2 linked regions of the Homo sapiens genome follow. The protein of the gene in region 2 purifies or fractionates together with the protein of the main gene of each other region. This does not show direct contact. Each region holds a gene or a part of one and is shown on either strand. Other genes may lie near its edges.

Evidence for each region. Proteins that work in one complex are often made in the same cells at the same time.
Region 1: the proteins of ACKR5 (region 2) and EXOC7 purify together in Homo sapiens (co-immunoprecipitation; 2 studies listed by BioGRID and IntAct, with this or other methods). This does not show direct contact.

The regions. Positions count from the first base shown.
Region 1 is NC_000017.11:76,082,966-76,086,787, reverse strand, and holds part of EXOC7 (exocyst complex component 7), read left to right. Parts: intron 1-642; coding exon 643-708; intron 709-990; coding exon 991-1,111; intron 1,112-1,378; coding exon 1,379-1,474; intron 1,475-2,207; coding exon 2,208-2,271; intron 2,272-2,498; coding exon 2,499-2,540; intron 2,541-2,648; coding exon 2,649-2,782; intron 2,783-3,037; coding exon 3,038-3,140; 3' UTR 3,141-3,822. UniProt on the Homo sapiens protein: Component of the exocyst complex involved in the docking of exocytic vesicles with fusion sites on the plasma membrane.
Region 2 is NC_000012.12:56,991,756-56,997,291, forward strand, and holds the start of ACKR5 (G-protein coupled receptor 182), read left to right. Parts: upstream 1-2,736; 5' UTR 2,737-2,893; intron 2,894-3,438; 5' UTR 3,439-3,454; coding exon 3,455-4,669; 3' UTR 4,670-5,536. UniProt on the Homo sapiens protein: Orphan receptor.

The DNA of each region.
Region 1 (3,822 bases), on a different chromosome or scaffold from region 2:
ACTGACTCTCAGTACCTACTGGGGAGCCTGAGTCAGAGGGGACATGAGTTTTCTCGGGGTGCTCTCAACTCTCTCTGCTCCCTTCAAGGCCACTCTGTCTCTGAGCTTATCCGCAGCACCTGCCCAGGCTAGAGCCCTGGATACACCCCCTAGGCTCGCCCGGCCTCCCTGCCTTGCTGTCCCCACTCGGCCTTCCCCACTGTGCAGGCCGCAGCTTCGTCTGTTCAGTAGGGTCTGGTAGAGGGGATGTTCGAATGTAGGGGAGAAGGTGGAGAGGCTGTGGGGAGCCCATTCTAAGACTCTGCTGTTGACAAAAGGAAAAAGGGGGCCTTGTAGAAACCACCCAGGGTGGGTGGGGGCAGGAGGGGACAGGGCGCTGGCATCTCACTCTTTTCCTGCCAGCTTTTCTGCTGACATGGGCCAGCTCCATCCCATCATAGAGGGCAGCTCTGGGTTCCAAAAACTCCAGGGCTGGTGCTTCCTGCGGCAGGGGCCACCCTGTGGCTTAGCAGGCAGCCAGCTCTGCCCAAGGAAGCCCAGGGCCTGTCTCAGTGTCCCCTCAGACTGCTGCATGGCCTGGGGGAAGGGCCGTTGAGGGTCTTGGCTGCTGCCACTGCAATAACAGGACTTCTCCTCTCACAGAGACCAGCTCTTCGGCCACCAGCTACAGCTCTGAGTTCAGCAAGCGGCTGCTAAGCACCTATATCTGTGAGTGTTCTCCCGGGCAGACCAGCAGCCCTGCTGCCTGCATGCCCTGCCTTTCCCTTCCTTCTGTCTGTGCTCTCTGGCTATTCCCAGGGCCCTCTCCTAAGTGCCATCTGATCTTTGGAACCACAACCTGACCTCTAGTTCAGAGGCTGAGGGGAGTTGGGCTAAGGCCTCCTGAGGCAGGACGAGGAGCGATGGATAGGAGCGCGTTCGCGGGTCCTGGGGTGGGGTCGTTTGGGTCAGACTGCCATGGTGGGTGTGGCCCCATTTTTCCCTGTGCAGGTAAAGTGCTGGGCAACCTGCAGTTGAACTTGCTGAGCAAGTCCAAGGTGTACGAGGACCCAGCTCTGAGCGCCATCTTCCTGCACAACAACTACAATTACATCCTCAAGTCCCTGGAGAAGTAAGTGGCCTGCGGGAGTGAGTCTGCGGCTCTCACCTTCCCCTCGGCTGTGCAGCTGTGCCAGCCCCTGCCCCCCTGGGCTCCTTCTCTTGTGGACGAGAGGGGAGGGGGTGCTTCAGTCTCCTCCACCCCAGGACCCGGAAGGTGGGATGCCATAGAGCTTGTGGAGTTTGGGGTGCAATGGGAGGCCCTCCCGGCATTGCCGCAGCCTTTGGGCCTGAGGAGCCAATCCTGTCCTCCTCTCCTCTGTCCCCTACCCCGACCCAGGTCTGAACTGATCCAGCTGGTGGCAGTGACACAGAAGACTGCTGAGCGCTCCTACCGGGAGCACATTGAGCAGCAGATCCAGACCTACCAGCGCAGGTGAGAGGCTGGGCCCGCCCTGCTCCTGCATGGGCCCCTGTGCCACCACGCACTCTTCCTTCTCAGCACCTCAGGACACAGAGTCGGTCACGGGGAACTCCTGTCCTCTGGACCCTAATCCTCCACTTGGTTTCTAATCAAACTCACGGGGTGGAGAGAGAAGCCCCCTCCTCTACCACTACCTGCTCCTAGGGGCCCACTATGGCCACTTTAGAGGGGAGTCTGCCAAGTGTCAAGGCTAAGAATGATTGAAGAGCTGGCTCTCAGAGACGTGGGTAATGTTTACCTAGGAGAAGAGCAAGGTCGCGAGAGCACTTGAACGTGGCTGAGCCTTGCTCTGTGAGGATCCCGCTGCTTCTCTGGTCCTCTTTCTTCCTGGCTTTGTTTCTTCCCTTTGAATGTGTCTACCTCTTCCTTCTCATTTATCTGCCCTCCACTCCTTTCTTTCTCATCTGTTTCTCCATCTTAGTTTGCCACGATATTGATGTGAAGTATAGTTGACAGTATTTGTCCAATTTATTGAACACTCAAGTGTTTCCTAATGTTATCTCAAAAAGTGACCAGTTTAAAGATTTTCTCTTCCCAGGAAGAAAACCTGTTGTTTGCTTAGTTGTGACCCACATCCCTTCCTACCACCACCCACCAAGTAGATCCAGAGATTTAGCAAACGAAACAAGCCAGGCCACTGAGGCAGGCCACCCTCTGCCCTCATGCTTCTCTTTCTGTCTGGCAGCTGGTTAAAGGTGACTGATTACATCGCAGAGAAGAATCTACCTGTGTTCCAGCCGGGAGTCAAGGTGGGCTCAAGACCTGGGCTGGGAAGGGGTGTCTGGCAGACGGGATACTTTTTGTCGTGTCTCTGGGAAAAAGTGGACAAGCATCCCTCTGGGATCAGAGAGCAAAGGATGCATGTGGCCATCAGGACACAGGAGACAGGCCCAGACCAAGGGTGTTTGGGGAAGAGTGGGGGAAGGCTGCTCTGCTCTGAAGTGAGCTTTCTCTGCTATCTCTCCTGGCTTCCCAGCTCCGGGACAAGGAGCGGCAGATTATCAAGGAGCGTTTTAAGGTGAGTCGGGGTCCTCTCCCCTCCACTGCTTGCTGCTGCTGTTGAGGCAACACAGACCCAAAATGTTTGTCTCTGGGTGCCTTCCTTTTTCACCTTTTTGGTGGCCAGGGCTTCAATGATGGCCTCGAAGAACTGTGCAAAATCCAGAAGGCCTGGGCTATTCCAGACACAGAGCAGAGGGACAGGATTCGCCAGGCCCAGAAGACCATTGTCAAGGAGACCTACGGGGCCTTTCTACAGAAGTGAGGCCTCCATTCCCCTCCCAGCCTGTGCTGCCCACAGCCCCAGTGGGCCTCTTCAAGCTCCTCTTCCTCAAGGGAAAAAGGAGAAGGGTGGTGGATTTAGGCAGCAGATCCAGCGACCTGGGCTTTGGGGCGGGGCCAGACAGGGAATCGCTCAGGGCCACCCCTTCCAAGACTATCAGGAGTGCCTTAGGCTGAGGGTGGAGCTGGGGAGGGGTCGGCCCTCCCTGTCCCCTGACCACAGTGCCTCCTCAGGTTTGGCAGCGTGCCCTTCACCAAGAACCCGGAGAAGTACATCAAGTACGGGGTGGAGCAGGTGGGCGACATGATCGATCGCCTTTTCGACACCTCTGCCTGAGCCTGCTGCTAGCCCTGCCTGGTTCCACCAGACTGGCGTGTCATTGGACAGATAAACCAGTGTTAGCTTGCCTCTGGGCTGGGTGAGCTTGAAGTCCTCTGGGACAGAGACCTGTCTCCACGCCTCCGGGAGCTGTGTCCCTGAGCCCCCTAGTCCTGGCTCCTGCTTTTTCCCCACAGCCCGTGTTCCCAGCCGAACCAGCACTCTCCCGGAAGCCTGGGGTCCCTCCACACCTTGGCTTTTATGACCCTGATGGCTTCTGAAACAGGAAAAGAGAGAAGGAAGACAGAGGCCTGTGCCCACTGCTGCTCCATGTGTACCAAGAGCAGCAGGGCAGAAGGGCCCTCCCTCCAGCCTAGGTCAGAGGTGGGGACAGAGAACTCCCCTACAGCCCAGAGATGTGGCAGGGCTCAGAGAAGCAGCCAGAGCTCCTGGAGGAAAGGCAGTCGGGACTGACCCCCTCTCTTAAAACACATTCCCGCCCGCCCACAGGCCTGAGGTCTGGGACCTTTCCCTCCCAGGAGTCCCCTAGGTGGCTGGGGGAGGCAGGCTCACTGGCCATTTTCCCTAGAGTCCAGCACACTGCAGGAGGCGTTCGGAGGAGGAGTTCCGCCCCACCCTCTACAGCCTTCCTCAGGCCCCTGTCTCTGGCCCCCAGCCTCAGTGCCTCTTGGCCCAGGGC
Region 2 (5,536 bases):
CTCCATATGGGAAGGACAATTCAGAGACCCAGGAGACAGGAGCCACTAAAGGGCAGTCTTGTGAGGAACGGAAGTGGTCACAGATGTGGCCATCTGGAGAGGACAAAGACCAGACCAGGGCCTTCCTTGGAGGGTGCTTGATCTAGGACAGGCTTCATTTGCATGGGTCAAAAGCATGTAGTGGGAAGGGGAAATTCTCAGAAGGCTCCTTACTGAAGAAAAATATCAATGGGATAGAAACTAAGACCCTAAAGGGAGAGAATAAGAGCAAAACTAACTGAAAAATCGAAGTAAGCCACATTTCACACTGTCATGGTTCATCATGATGGTTTTTTGTTTTTGTTTTGTTTTGTTTTTTTGAGACAGAGTCTCACTCCACGGCCCAGGCTGGAGTGCAGTGGCGTGATCTCAGCTCACTGCAACCTCCGCCTCCTGGGTTCAAGAGATTCTCCTGCCTAAGCCTACTGTGTAGCTGGGATTACAGGCATGCACCACCACGCCTGGAATTTTTGCATTTTTAGTAGAGACAAGGTTTTACCATGTTGGCCAGGCTGGTCTCGAATTCCTGACCTCAGGTGATACACCTGTCTCAGCCTCCCAAAGTGCCAAGATTACAAGCATGAGCCACCTAGCCTAGCCCATTATTTTTTTTTTTTTTTTTTTTTTTTAGGAGATGGGATCTAGCTCTCTAGATCCCATCACCCAGGCTTCAGTGCAGCAGGGTGATCATGGCTCACTGCAGCCTTGAATTCCTAGTCTCAAGCGATCCTCCCACCTCGGCCTCCCAAATACAGACTGTACCACCACAACTGGCTATTTTATTTTTTGTAGAGATGGGGGTCTCATCTTGTTGCCCAGGCTGGTCTCAAACTCCTGGGCTCAAGCAGTCTTCCCACTTCGGCCTCCCAAAATGCTGGGATTACTGGTGTGAGCTACTGCACCGGCCATGATAGATTTTGTGATCTTGGAGTGATCTGATATGTAAGTGGAAGGTTTAAGAAAACTACAAAACTACAAAATGAAAAATATTCCCTTCCATGGAGATAAATGGTGCTGATGGTTGCACAGCAGTGTAAATGCACTTAGCGCCACTGAATTGTACACTTAAAAATGGTTAACGTGGTAAACCTTACATATATTTTACCATAATAAAAGAATCAGTGAGCAAACTTTTAAAAAATGTTCTCTTTGAGTGGATAAAGAAAATGTGGTGTGTGTGTGTGTATATATATATATATATATATGGGAATATTACTCAGCCATGAAAGGAAATGAAGTACGGATGCATGCTCCAAAGTGAATGAACCTTGAAAACATGCTAAGTGGAAAAAAAAAAACACAGACACTGAATGTCACATATGATATGGTTCCCTTTCTATTAAGTATCCAGAATAGGTAAATCCACAGGGACAGGAAGCAGAAGGTTGGTGGTGGGGGGAATAGGATTGACTGCTTAATGGTTATGGGGTTTTCTTTGCGGGTAATGAAGATGTTTAGCACGTAGACAGAGGTGGTGTTTGCACAATGTGCATGTCTAAATGCCATTAAATCACACATTTTAAAATGGTTAATTTTATGCTATGGGAATTTCACCTCGACTTAATATATACTCAATCCCGTCCAGCCGACACACCTTTGGCTCAGGCCTAGGCCACTCTGCCATCTGCCAAGTGTGGCTTGTGTAACAGACAACTTCTCTGGGCCTCAAAGAGGGTGAAGAAATCCATCCTCCCCACAGGGGTATCTCCAGAATCCAACGAGATGAAGTGAGGTGAAAGCGCTCTGAAGGGCAGGAAGCTCTGCTGACACAAAATGTTTACCCATAACACGTGGCTTAGAGTCCCTTACCCTCTAGCTTGGCGGGAGAGAGAAGTCTGCTCTCCCTACCCCACGCCCCATCCCCTGCTCATCCCCTGCCAGCCACCCACCACACCCTTCACGCAGAGAAGTATAGAGCCACAGGGGGAGGGCGCCATTCTCTCTCTCCCTCCCTACTCAGGAATCTCCCTGAAGCTTTGACAAAGCCCCCTTGACACCCCGCATTCAATCTTATTTTTATTTTTTTTTATTAACTCTGTCACCTAGGCTGGAGTGCAGTGACCTGATCTCAGCTCACTGCAACCTCCGCCTCCTGGGCTCAAGCGATTCTCCTGCCTCAGCCTCTCAAAATGCTGGAATTACAGGCGTGAGCCACCATGCCCAGCCATTCAATCTTTTCTTTCCCAGATTCTCACCTCCAATCACAAGATGAAGGCAGGGAGCTCACAGCCCTGTGAGGGGCTGGGGAGAATGGCAGGGGTGGGCCAGAGTTATTAAAAGCCCAACTGATGTTCAGATTTATTTTGACCCTCCCCTATACCCCCACATCCAATTTCACTCTAGTAGGAATCAAGACAGGGGAGAGAGGGATTCCAAGCTGACTTAGGGAGAGGAAAATACATACATACGTAAAGCATTTGCCACAGGCCCCACCTGAGCTAAGCACTTTCCCTCCCTCAACAGCTCCTTTAATTCTCAAAGCATCCCTTTTAGTAGATAATAGACCCCACTTTGCAGAGGAGAGCACTGAGGCTGAGGAAAGAGGTAAATTCATTCAGCGGGTGAGGGAGGAGCTGGGATTTTAATGCTGGCAGTATGACCTCCCCGCCACTGGCACACCGGGTCTTTTGCTGGGACATCCCCTGTAACCGGATTGGGGGAATGCAGGAAAAACCCCATCCCTCCCTACAGAGCCTCAGCAGTGACAGCTACTTCCCGGATGAGAAGGGCGGCCGTGAAGCCAGCAGGGAAGCCAGCCCCACAGCCAAGGGCCCCCCAGCCTCCTCACAGCTCCCCATAGCCTGGACCTGCCGGCCCTCCCTCCAGGACCGAGGGGCTCCCAAGGGAAACTCAGGTGAGTGTCGCCCTCTCCCAGGGAAGATGGGAATCAGGGCTTGGAGACAACTGGCTATCCTGCATGATCCACAGGTTTTCCTAGGGATGAATCAGATTGTGTGGTGTGCGTGTGTGTGTGTGTGTTCCACACTCACGGTCCAAATAACAAGACAGAAAAAGAGCAATAAAGATCTGTGCAAAAGGGCTGAGGAATGAAGTGCCAGGAGAGAGGTGGAGGTTGGAGACCACCTAGGAATGGTGGGTGTGGGGGGATTGAGGGGGTTGTTGAGGGGGAACTGGCTGGGGGTGGGGAGAAATGTTGGTGGACACCAACAGTCCTGGCCTCTTCCAGCTGAAACCCCTTAAGAAAGTATCTCTGCTCTTGGGTCAGAGCTAGCAAGTGAGTTGTGTATTATTTATTCACAGTTTGAAAGCTAAACTTCCCTTTCTTGCCTTAGCCCCAGAATCTTTCCCCAAAGCCCCCGACTCCCTCTGGCCTCTACCTTGAGGACACAAGGCTCTCGAGGTCTGCTTTCCCTTCCAACCCTCCCTTCATCCCAATAGGCGTGTGCTGGTCCCAATGTCAGTGAAACCCAGCTGGGGGCCTGGCCCCTCGGAGGGGGTCACCGCAGTGCCTACCAGTGACCTTGGAGAGATCCACAACTGGACCGAGCTGCTTGACCTCTTCAACCACACTTTGTCTGAGTGCCACGTGGAGCTCAGCCAGAGCACCAAGCGCGTGGTCCTCTTTGCCCTCTACCTGGCCATGTTTGTGGTTGGGCTGGTGGAGAACCTCCTGGTGATATGCGTCAACTGGCGCGGCTCAGGCCGGGCAGGGCTGATGAACCTCTACATCCTCAACATGGCCATCGCGGACCTGGGCATTGTCCTGTCTCTGCCCGTGTGGATGCTGGAGGTCACGCTGGACTACACCTGGCTCTGGGGCAGCTTCTCCTGCCGCTTCACTCACTACTTCTACTTTGTCAACATGTATAGCAGCATCTTCTTCCTGGTGTGCCTCAGTGTCGACCGCTATGTCACCCTCACCAGCGCCTCCCCCTCCTGGCAGCGTTACCAGCACCGAGTGCGGCGGGCCATGTGTGCAGGCATCTGGGTCCTCTCGGCCATCATCCCGCTGCCTGAGGTGGTCCACATCCAGCTGGTGGAGGGCCCTGAGCCCATGTGCCTCTTCATGGCACCTTTTGAAACGTACAGCACCTGGGCCCTGGCGGTGGCCCTGTCCACCACCATCCTGGGCTTCCTGCTGCCCTTCCCTCTCATCACAGTCTTCAATGTGCTGACAGCCTGCCGGCTGCGGCAGCCAGGACAACCCAAGAGCCGGCGCCACTGCCTGCTGCTGTGCGCCTACGTGGCCGTCTTTGTCATGTGCTGGCTGCCCTATCATGTGACCCTGCTGCTGCTCACACTGCATGGGACCCACATCTCCCTCCACTGCCACCTGGTCCACCTGCTCTACTTCTTCTATGATGTCATTGACTGCTTCTCCATGCTGCACTGTGTCATCAACCCCATCCTTTACAACTTTCTCAGCCCACACTTCCGGGGCCGGCTCCTGAATGCTGTAGTCCATTACCTTCCTAAGGACCAGACCAAGGCGGGCACATGCGCCTCCTCTTCCTCCTGTTCCACCCAGCATTCCATCATCATCACCAAGGGTGATAGCCAGCCTGCTGCAGCAGCCCCCCACCCTGAGCCAAGCCTGAGCTTTCAGGCACACCATTTGCTTCCAAATACTTCCCCCATCTCTCCCACTCAGCCTCTTACACCCAGCTGAGGTAGAGGCCAGACTCCTCCAACAGTGAAGGAAAAGGCACAGGTGAGAGTATAGGTGGGAGATTTGGGGGGATGTAGAGGGGAGGGTCAAAGCACTCGTGGTCAATTTTGAATCTATCTTAAAATACTGAGGTGTGGAGAGAGAGACAGGATCAGGAGCGATAGAGAGCAGGCCCTCAGTGTTGTACTATTTGTCTCGGTCCTTGTGTCTAAGGAGCAATGCAGAAAAAAAGGTGAAATAAATGGAAGAGATAGCCATGGACTCTGGATCTTTTAAAAATCTGCACTTCCAGCTGGGATTGGGAAGGGAGCTGAGGCTAAAGAGGTGCTCGGCAGAGGAAACTAGACACATTCATTTCATAAATCACTCTGGCTGGAAACAGTGAACTCTGCAGGAACCTCACAAAACTCCTTTTGCGTTTGTGAGCTTGTTGATCTTCCAGCTCACTATGCAGGTTATGGGGACAAGAGGCCAGAGGCCAAGGAACCAGGCGGCCCCAGCAGGACGTTCCCTAGCTGTGCATCCTATGCACAGCCATGATAAGTGAAGGCGGATGGGGATGGCAGGGGTGGGGGCGAAGCCAAGGTCTGAGACCTGCACCCTGCAGCTGGGTCAGCAGGATGGTATCTCCACCCGCGGCCATCCAGGAAACACAGCTCCATTTCCTTGCTGACACCCTCCCCTCCCCGTTGTCCATCCTGCTCCCTCCCCACAAGCAAGAGGAGTTGTCCCAGAGTCAGCTCCTCATAGCTGACCTCTTACCAGCTTCGGATCTAGGAAACTTCCAGACTTCTAGGGAGACACAGAGCTACCAGAAAGCCCAACCCACCCCCATCTCTTTCTCTCCAGATCATAGGAAAGTATCAA